Regions from separate parts of the Homo sapiens genome. Here region 2 is linked to region 1. The links come from fine-mapping of genetic effects on gene expression. A gene starts in region 1. The other region holds a variant in brackets. All regions are shown on one strand. Distances are between the middles of the regions.

Region 1 (5,381 bases):
CCTAATTTCTTGTAGAGATGGGGTCTCACTATGTTGCCCAGGCAAATCTCGAACTCCTGGACTCAAGCAATCCTCCCACCCTGGCCGCCCAAAACGCTGGGATTACAGGCATAAGCCAGGGTGCCTAGCCTGATGATTCAAGAAAAGGAGCTGGGCCCTTTCTCAGTTAGTTAAGGCAACCTACCATTTGATTACATCAAGACCTTTGTTTAATTACCTACCTCATGCTAAAAGGTAAAATAAATGGAGTATTGCACAATGACTTAAGATTTAATCTGGGAATGGACTCTGTGAGGCATATAATAATCAGATGTGTTAGAAGCACCTGAAACATAGTAGTGGATAGTAGTGGATCTAAAGCTGTGAAAAAGGAAATGATGATAGTTCTCACTCCACTGAACTAGGATCAGTGTTCCCATGGACCTAGATGTGTTTCTCTCCACACCAAGACTGTCAATCCAGGTTCATTGTCCCAAGAGACTCCCCGACTACTGCTTACCATCCACCACACTTGTTTCACTTGTTTCAAAGATATAAACCTTGGCCATGCCATTAATAAGTGGGCAGAAAAGAGTTTCTGAAGGGAGACTGGGACTTGCCTCATTATAAATGCTAACAGTAACAAACTTTTATTTAGTCTCTCTCTTCCTCTTAAAACACACACACAAGGAACCAGAGTGTCTGTAGGATGAATTCCCAGGCCATAGCAACTGCAATGTCCTGAGATCTAAGCAGTTCTTGGCTGGCCAGGCGTTAAGCCCTTTTGGGGAAGGAGACAGCAAGCCTGCTTTTCCCTTACACAGCCCTGTCGTGAAAACAAGCTCTTGTTTCTTGGGGGTTTTTTTGTTCGGTTTTTAGCTAAGAATTTCCATCCCTCCTGCAGTGATAAAAGATAGGCAAGGGAAGCTCAAGGGTTTGATCTCAAATTTTCTTCCACCTAACTTGCCCCTTCACCCCAATATTTGGAAATAAAGGGAGGGAATTTGGGGGAAGTTGAGGGTAAGTTTTTGGTCAAGATGATTGACCCGAGATGTGGATGCAGCTTAGACGATGAGGGAGACTGCACCACCCTGCAGGGTCACCTGCCTAGCCACAGGTAAACGAGGGATCGGAAAGACTGTAGAAAATTCATCTTCCTTCACACACATCTCCTTCCCCCTCCCCCCATTCCAGTGCCGGCGCGCTGGCTGGCTGGAAGCCGGCGCTTTGGAGGCGCCGGAGAGTGGGTCTAAGGGTGATATTTCGGCATACAGAACCTGAGACCCCACCCGAGCCAAGAGGGAAGAGAGAGGGTAAAGGGATTGAGGAGGGGGCGGCTTGCGCCCTGCTCGGGAATGCACCGCGCGACAGCACCCGGAGGTCTCCGGTGTCCGGCGCGCACCGGTACCACTGTCTTCCACTGCGGTAGCATCCCGACATGACATTGCAGCTGCAACAAAGCGCCGGCCTCGGCCGGCCGTGGGAGCCCCACACCGCGGCGAGGCCCCACACCACGCAGAGGGGCAGTGGCCGATGGGTGGGGGGCTGTGGCTGCGGGCGTGGGGAGCGCGAGGTAGGCCGAGTAGGGGGAAAAGCCCTCAAATGCGCAGAAGCTGGGCGGCTACCTCTAGCGTCTCCTCCAGCAAAGCCAGACTGCAAGGAAAACAATTCGTCTTCATTCCCCAGCCCCGGCTGAGCCCTGAGATTCCCCCAAATAACCTAGTCGAGGCCCTCTGGTGTGTTGCCTTCCCTTGGAAACCCCTCAGTGCCCGTAACCCAGTCGGCCGGGCCCCGCGCCTCCCTAAGCCCCGGCCCGGTGACCCGCCCGGCTCCCGGAGAGCGGTTCCTTCTGCTCCGGCGCCGCCGCCACCCCCGGTCCACGCAAGCGCTCACCAGGAGAAGGGAGCCCGCGATCATCGTGGCTGTGGCTCGGCGGGCGATGCGGCTGCAGGAGGCGAGGGCGGTGCTGCTGCTCGGAGAGGTCCCCATGGCTGAACCGGGGACTCGCAGGGGCGCCCGGGGCGCGCGGGGCAGCTGGAATCGGCGGCTGCTTCTGCCCAGCGCCGCATCCACCGCCGCCTCCCGGGCCGGGAGCCCATCTACCTCCAACACCCCATGTGCACTGCTGCGGCCGGGCAGAGGAGGGAGGCGGCAAGGGAGGCTCTAGGGGCGCTCAGCACCTGCCCAGCGGCGCGGCCGCCCAGGCGGGGAGAAGCCGCCGCGACTGCAGCCCGCGTCTCCGGGTGCTCTCCTCCGACAGCGGCTGAGGAGAACCAGGGAGGAGGACTGGGCGCGAGAGAGCAAAGGAACGACTTCCCATAGCGAAGCTTCCAGCCACTGCCAACCACCCTCCTCCGCTGCCCAGACTGGTCGGCGAGGGACTGAGTCGGTGGCCACCGGGCGCAGGGACACACGTGGTGGCGCCGAAGGGGCGGGGGACCGGCCCTTTGTGATGTCACCCGGGAGGAGGCCGGGCTCTTTGTGCGGTTGGAAAGGCGAAGGCGTTCCAGGTAGAGCGGGGAGGGAGAGGGTGCCCCTTGGCGTTCGCTGAGGAAATTGCACGCGCCTGTTGACCCAGGGAAAGCGCTGAGAAAGCATCTCACTCCTGATCTAACTTTACTTATTTTTTCCGAGATAATTCCAACTAAATTATTTCAGCTACATACGCCTTTCCATTGTTTCGGACACGATGATTAAATCAGAGAGCGATGGTGAATAGACCACAGAGCACTTAGATCAACTGCGTGACGAAAAAGGAGACCTGTGTGTTGCTTCTCAAACTTTGCTGCCCTGTGGAATCACCTGGAGAGTTCAAAACATATATATTGATTCTTGGGTCCCACCTCTAGAGACTCTGATTTAATTGGAACAGGACAGGATCTGGTCTGGGCATTGAGGTTTGTTGTTGTTGTTGTTTGTTTGTTTTTTAAGTTTTCAGGGTGATTTTAATATGGGGCAAAGATTTTAATTTTTTATATTTTAATTTTAATATGGGCTTATGAATGCAATTAAGGAAATCCAAACTAAAAGGATTTAAAACCCAGAGTCATTGGTGTTGGGTCCATGGATGGTCTTGGAGGGACTTTTGAACTCCTTGAAATGTATCAAAAGATGCATTTTCCTAATTTAAAAATCAAGAGTTTTGAATCGGATTATCCCTGAGATTTTTTTTAATCACCCTTCCCCCAAAAAATAATGCTAAAAATTTTTGAGTTGATTTCCAAAGGCCTTGTCAGGATGTGGGTGGTAGAATAGGTAGTATTCTGCTTCAGAAGGAGAACTGGAATATTCTCGTGGATGTTGGTATCTCACACACTTCTGAATGTAAGAGAGCAGCTGTTATCCTTTTCTTTGTTTCACCTGGGGGAAGGCCGAGTCTCCTGACTGTGGCCACCATTTCTGGTATCGTGTTATCCATCATCTAGGTACTGACAGCACATGGCACACTGTATTGATATTACCTCTTCAGCCATCCAGTCCACACCCCTCAATTGGGAGCCCTATGGTGCTGGGCTTATCCTAGGCTCCTTTGGTCCCATTTCAAAAGAATCACACTTTTTAAACTATCAGTTTCAAGATCCAACACCCAGTGCTAATAAAGGTAACTTGCTAAGTCATAGGTACCAATTATTTGCTTTATTAGTTAACATGTTGTCCTTTGATTCTTTGCTCTATGCACACTTTGGTAGAAGCTAAAATTAATATGAGGGTTAATTCCAATCTATTATTTCAAACATTTGTCAGTATTGTCTATAAATGTTAGAGTGGGAAAAAAGCTACAATATATAACCTCTAGTGAAATTCAAAGGAGTTCTAGAAAATATTACCATTAATTATGGAGTTTTGGGGAAAGGATGATGGTTGGACTTGCCACTCTCTAGCTATTTTCAGAAGTTGAAAGAGTGAGGGATAGATGCTGTGTTTTCATGCATAACTGTATCAATTTTTTCTTCAAAAATTCAAATGACTGGCCAATACTATTATAAGGTTGGGTTGTTTTTTTTTAAGAAGTTACATAGGTATTAAAGAGGAGGAGGAGCTTCAAATACGTTTTTATTTAGTCCATTTTACTCCTTGCATCCAAACTCACATTTTTCGTGGTAATATATGATTGATTTGCTCTAAAGAGTTGGGCAACTTTAGAGTTTAGTGTCTGGGTTACTATGCAGGTATAAGAAGTTCTTCTCAACTATTTGTCTTCCTAAAACTAAAAGAAAATTGTTTATTTGTGCTTGGACCACTTTGAAACTTCATGAATTCCTGGTGTTCCATTGATCATATCAAGTTGAAATTTAATATACATTTTGAGAGATGAAAAAATTTACTCAATTCTGTTTACTACTAACATTTAAATACATGTCCCTCTATAGAGTGATAGATTATAGATAATTTGAATCTAGATGCAGTGTGAAATTTTATTACTTTGAATTGAAATGTATACATGCCTTCCATTTTGAAGTAACAATGCTGCAACCATTAAATAATTCATTGCCACATTTTCAATGTGGTAACTTAGACATGTCTGTTTTCTGGGAAAGGATAAAAATTCAATGATACATAAGGAAGTTTCTCCCAAAGTTCCAAGGAAAGAGGAGATATGTGTTGATAAATCATAATTATAGCTAAATTTTAAAGGAAGGCCTAAATGAGTTAATCCAATGTCATCTTTGCCATAAAAATTACTCTATCTCCACCCTCCATCCTACCTTTGGACTTTCTCTCTTTCTGCCAATGTTGTACAATTTTTCTAGTTTTCCAACCTCAAAAATCATTGCTAATTCTTTCCTCGTCCTTAGTACATTCCAATTAATGCTTTCCTAACCTTTCATTTTTTTCTATTTTATCTTTCTTGTTAAAAATCTGATATATACATCTGGATACTGAAGAAATCACCAGAGATTGCGCCACTGCAGTCCGCAGTCCGACCTGGGCGACAGAGCGAGACTCCGTCTCAAAAAAAAAAAAAAAAAAAAAAAAAGAAATCACCAGATTTACCATCTTGTCTTAATTATTTTTTTAACTTATCCTGCACACTTTCAGAAGGTCTAGTAAAATTTCATGTTCTTTATAATGAAAATAACAATTGTCCACATTTTGAGAAATGACTGCTGCATGACAAACATCCTGAGCCGATCTATGAGGGAATGACAGAAAGTTGGCAGGAAAATGCCAGCTCCGTTGGGGAGACCCTAACCCAGTGGCGCTAGAGGAATTAAAGACACACACACAGAAATATAGAGGTGTGAAGTGGGAAATCAGGGGTCTCACAGCTTTCAGAGCTGAGAGCCCCGAACAGGGATTTACCCACATATTTATTAACAGCAAACCAGTCATTAGCATTGTTTCTATAGATATTCGATTAACTAAAAGCATCCCTTATGGGAAACGAAGGGTGGGCTGAA
Region 2 (5,381 bases), 170 kb before region 1:
CTATTCTACCAATTCTCTACTGCTGGAATCAGGTTGTTTCCAACTTTTCACTAGTACTTGTAAAAACACAGCAAAGAATGTCTTTATCACAAAATCTTTGTGCTTATTTCCTCTTACAAGTGAAAATATTGTCATCATTACTCTTAAAACATTGACAATATTTATCAAATACACCCTCTGTGCCAGGTACTTTACAAAACATTATTTAATCCTCCCCCAAACCCTACTATTTACAGATGAGGAAACTGACTTTGGAGATGCTGAGTCATTTGTCTGAGGTTACCATTAGTCATGCCTTTAATGTTTTTGATACCTATTGGCAAATTGCCTTCTGGAAACAGGGTTTGGAATGCTGTAGGGAATACTAGAAACCTGTTGTTTCAGATAAATCCTCCATGAAGGAAAGATTACACAATCTCCTTTAGTGAGCTATTCCCGTTTTATCGGCCTGTCAACATTGTTTTCTCCATTATGTTTACCCAAAACCTTTGTGATAATATAATTACCTATACTACCGGGCAGTGAGGTATCTTTTTGATTCACAATCTCATCAGACTGTATTCCAGAGAAGCAGAACATTCTGGGGCTCAGAGTCCTAAAACATGGGTTTCAACCTGATTTTATCTTTCCTGGAGTGAGGTCCTGAGACACATCAGTTTACTTACCTAAGACTTGGCTTTCATATAAAATGGCAAAACTAATACGAACCTAACTGATCTCCCAGCGTTGTGATGGTGGGATGAGATGATGAAATTGAAAGAGCTTTGCATGCTGGAAAGAACAATAGAAATGCAAGGTATTGTAATTATCAATGGCATCATCATGATCATCTCCATCCTTAAATCTATTACCTTGCTCTTATTCAGGCCTTTGCTTTCTTAGACAGAACCAACTTGCTTTTTGATACCAATTCATATGTAAAACAAACATTTTATCTAAATTCATATAGAACAAAGGGAGGCATCTTTTACTGGCACCTGTTGGTAGCAAGCGTTAGGGAGCCTTGTTCTTTTGGACTAGTGACTGAGAGAAATGAAAGCTTGAGATAAAGATGTGGGTAGATCCTGAGAAGAGACAGAAAAGACCAGAGGCTGGGAGCCACAATTGAGAGAAGTGCCCATTCCCCAGGAAGCAACAAACGGTGGTGCTTTTACTAAGTGAAAACAATCAGAGCAAAATAAAATAAAAGATGGGAGGGAAAGGAAGATAAAAGAAGAAAATGGAAATCAGAAAGGAATGAACTGTGGTATTGAGGGATACTTGGGGTGACAGTTGGTAAGAAGGCGCAATTAATTGAAATTTAGACCAGGCTGATATAACTGGATCATACATTCCTGTGCCTGTATCCAGAGGATAGTGCATTCGAGAAAGTACTAATAGGGAAATGGAACCAGACCTGTATAAACCTTCGGGCTTCGACTATAATTAGGTTTGCATCTCATTGTCTTAATCTTTAAAAGAAAGAAGTTCCTGTACATATCTGGGCTTTCTAGTCCTGAATTCTACAATTATCTACAGTATTTTCTATCAAATTCCTTTGTCCACCAGGCTATGAAAATTTCTTCTTCTCTTTCCAATACTCTGGACTTTAAAATCACTGAAATCTCATCCTGAAGGGACAGAAGAGTCAATTTAGAGCACCCAGTATGTTATTCAAGTTGATGTGGTCCAAAGTGCATTTTGTCTTCCTGGAAACCACAACACAACATGAAATAAAGGCTTTACAGGAGAATCCATTCATACTGCCTACAGGGTCTGAGGATCTTGAGAAATCTACTGTGCAGAGAAGTTAAATTTTTAAATTTAATTTCTGCTTGCTAATTAGTCATTCCCAAATAAAAAGAAAAAGAGAGGTTAATCTAATACAGGCTTTGAAACAAAGCAGAAGATTAAAGTTAACTTCTCAGGAAGAATTCTGAGGACAGCACAAAGAGAAGGGAAAAATGGATAATTGATATCAAGCACGACTTCTCAGAAAAAAAAAAACTTGAATGATTGTAAATGGAACTATTCTGTGCCATAATTTCTTAAAGATGTATTTCCCCACTAAGGATGGATATGAGACTAATGGCTTTCCTTTCCTCTCTTTAATCAGAGAGCTAGATGTCATTTAACTGCCAAATTCTTGCAACGTTATTATTTGGGTTTAAAAAGGCAAAATGGCATGTTTCTACAAACGGTTTGAGACTGTAAAAATGCAAATAACTCAGCCTAATTTACAAATTGGTGGGCGAGGGGGCTGAGCCCAGAGAAGTGTTCAATCACTAATTTTCCCATTCTGCCAGAGCCAAAGAAGCTGTTGCATGGATCTCTGATTTTTTGCGTGGAAAACTGGCACTTGGTTTTCCAGCCTGTCATTTCAGATTGAAAAGCTTTGTCTTAAATCCTTCAGACATGAAGTTGGGCAATGATGCCTGTGAGTAAATTCAATTCCTGGAACCAAATAGATGAAAAAAAAATTATAATGATAGGAAGCTACGTGTCTTCAAAGTGGTATTTTAGAAAGAAATTTATTGGAAATGATGAGAACGTAATTTAAAAAGTGTATCATCTCGGTTATAGGAGCTGAGCTGGGTTTTACAGAGTTACCGCGAGGATTTCTGTTGTGGGAAAATACCCAGGAAGTGACTGAGCCCAGCCAGACGTCACTGGAGACATGCAGAAGAAAAGGCAAGATTGGTTGTGACTCTCCTCTTCTGGGAACATTCTAGAAAGGGGTAGCAAGGATGCTGAAACCAGGCCAGCTCCATAAGACCTCACTTTGCAGAAATAGAGAGAAGTAAGGGGTGTAGGTAGGAAGAACAGAGTGGTACTGAGAAGTCTCAAGGAAGAGAGCGAAGGGGAAGAGCAGCATAGAAAGTGTGGCTGCATTTGCGTGGTGGTCTTACTGCGTACAATGGTTGAGTTCCATGGTCCTTGTCAGCCTCCCTCACAGGGGGAATGCGCAGATCTCTGAAAAAAATAGCTCCCTCTTCAGCCTGCCCCGAAATCCCCACCTATTTCCACAACAGGGAGA[A/G]TGCAAATTTTCCTGCGGAAAAGCAAATAAACTGTTTTTAGGAATGAATGTTGAAATAAATTAAACCTTGATGACTCATTCATGTCTTGGAAAATTTTTATTTACCAGAAGTTATCTCTTTTGCAGGAATTCTGAAAAAAAGAAGTATTTTTTATAATCCATTTTATTTAATTAATTAATTCATTATTTATTTATTTACTTTTGAGATGGGGTCTTGCTCTGTCTCCCAGGCTGGTGTGCAGTGGCACGATCTCAGCTCACAGCAGCCTCCACCTCCTAGGTTAAAGCAATTCTCCCACCTCAGCCTTCCTAGTAGCTGGGATCACAGGGGCATGCCACCATGCCTGGCTAATTTTTGTATTTTTAATAGAGATGGGGTTTCATCATGTTGGCCAGGCTAGTCTCGAACTCCTGACCTCAGGTGATCCACCCACTTTGGCCTCCCAAAGTGCTGGGATTACAGGTGTGACCCACTGCCCCTGGCCCATTATTTTCATTTCAATGGTGGAGAGAAGAACATGGGACAAACTTGTAAAGGGTTGTAGTCATGTATTTAACAAGTGTTTACAAGCACCCACTCTGCAAGGTCTTATACTTGAAGTAGAGACTTTCAAAGAGCCTTAAGGCACCATCACTGTCCTCAGGGTCTTACATCTCCTTAGAGATCTCAATAAAACCTGAACTGTATGGAAGGAAACACTCAACAGAAGGCAGGATATAAATCCCAAATGAAAAGCAGAAGGGGTTCTAAGTGCCAGAAGTCAAAGGGGAGAGAAGACCTTCAAGGAGGTTCACAGCTATCCCAAGAGAGGGGCTTAAGTACATTACTGCTAACAGCACAGACAATGCAAAAAGGGAAGGCGGGCGTGGGGCCAAGGAGGGGCTCAGGAAAAGGCTAGCTGGGGGATGAGGACACACAACACAGGAAAACAACCCATGGAATAAGAAAGAGAGCTCCTAGGGGGAATTCAAAGATGGGAACCAGACTTGAACAGACCAACAGCAATACTTTTAGCAATGCAATTTTGTCTAACAGAAAGACAGCGTACAATCTTGGAGTCAGATAAACAGCTATCTTGTGTTGGGCCCAGTGTAGCGCCTTGGTGTCCTCATTTGTAAAACTGGGATAAAAACCCTTATCTCAAAGGATAGCAAAGGATAAGTTACACAGCAATGGGTCTGACACATAGTGGGACCTTCACACAAGTTCAGTCCCTTCCTCTGACCTCCAGATCTTTTCATCCTGCTCCCCATCACACTCAATAAACTTGAAAAAGAAAGAACATTCACCATACTTTTTTGGTTAGGTTGATCCATAAATCACTTCTTTTTCTTTTTTAATAGGGACAAGGTCTTGCTATGTTGCCTATGCTGGTCTCAAACTCCTGGGCTCAAGTGATCCGCCTCAGTCTCCCAAAGTGCTGGGATTACAGGAGTGAGCCACTGCATCCATCCCCATAAATTGCTTCTATAAACGGTCTTTGGGAAAAGGAAATAGTGGAAGTATAAAAGTCTACTCTGAATATTTGGGGATATAACATCTCCTAGGATCTGTCCTTCAAGAAAAACCACTATTAGGAATAATATAGAAAACAAATATTTTATATGCACCCTGAATGGAGGGCATTATTAAATCCCTTGTTAAAGTTAGCACTTTCCAAGTAGGAATTTTGTTTGTAAAATAAGTTTTGCACAGCTGGTGTCAAACCCCTTTCCTTGCTCCCAATATTCTAATAATTGCAATCAGCTTTGGTGATTTCTCAGAGGTGAATTACAGTAACTCTTCCTCCAAGCCTTACAACAATTTTCCCTCATTTTTTATCATTATTACTCAAAAATGCTGATGCTTTTAAGAGGCAACTCCTCCATACAGTTAGGATTCTCCACCAACTCTGCATTCTTGTCTTCATCCTAAAGGCCATGTAGAAGGAAGAAGGTGATAGAAGAAGAAAATTTCACAGTAAAAGTCAAAATTTTACCTAGGTACTACCTTATATGTATTCAGCTTTGTGGGTTTTTGTTTGTTTTTTTGCAGTTAGCTTTTATGTCTTACATACAAGATTTGTAAATTAAGAACTAGTTTCTACATCCCTGAGGTTTTTGGCACCTGTTTTTTCCCTCCCTATATTACCACTACCATCACGATTCAATTGCTCTGGAAAAGATATCTGTCAATACTGTCAAAGAACAAAATTTCAACACATTGAGTTTTGAAGATTGAATTGACTTTTATTAGTTATCCATGCAGTGGGAAACCTCCCAGCAATGAAATAGAAAGACACTCTGCTGAGCAGAGAGGCTGGGCCTTATAGGCAGAAAAGCCTCAAGAAAGTGGAGACAAGGAACAAGAAGCAGATTTGTCATT

Alleles and levels. Alleles are on the strand shown, and positions count from the first base shown. SD is a standard deviation of normalised expression in the study named.
For the expression in monocytes after R848 of the gene that starts at base 2,362 in region 1, A is the high allele of the variant in region 2 and G is the other (small effect, 0.35 SD a copy in Quach 2016).

What was found. PIP is the estimated chance that this variant, and not a neighbour inherited with it, causes the effect. A credible set is the group of variants that fine-mapping cannot tell apart.
Region 2: its variant is the best candidate, but not a certain one, in a credible set for the expression of TNFRSF21 in monocytes after R848 (Quach 2016, PIP 0.78).

What each region holds. Positions count from the first base shown.
Region 1 is chr6:47,307,544-47,312,924 of GRCh38, forward strand. It overlaps TNFRSF21 (TNF receptor superfamily member 21), which reads right to left and starts at 2,362. Exons shown (of 6, transcript NM_014452.5): 1 at 1,873-2,362. The coding sequence starts at 1,968. RefSeq lists enhancers at 1,313-2,035, 2,199-2,378, 2,330-2,624 and a silencer at 1,829-2,058.
Region 2 is chr6:47,135,619-47,140,999 of GRCh38, forward strand. LOC105375081 (a long non-coding RNA gene) reads right to left here and starts at 3,078. Exons shown (of 5, transcript XR_926864.3): 1 at 2,896-3,078; 2 at 709-771. The variant A/G (reference allele first, on the strand shown) is at 3,017.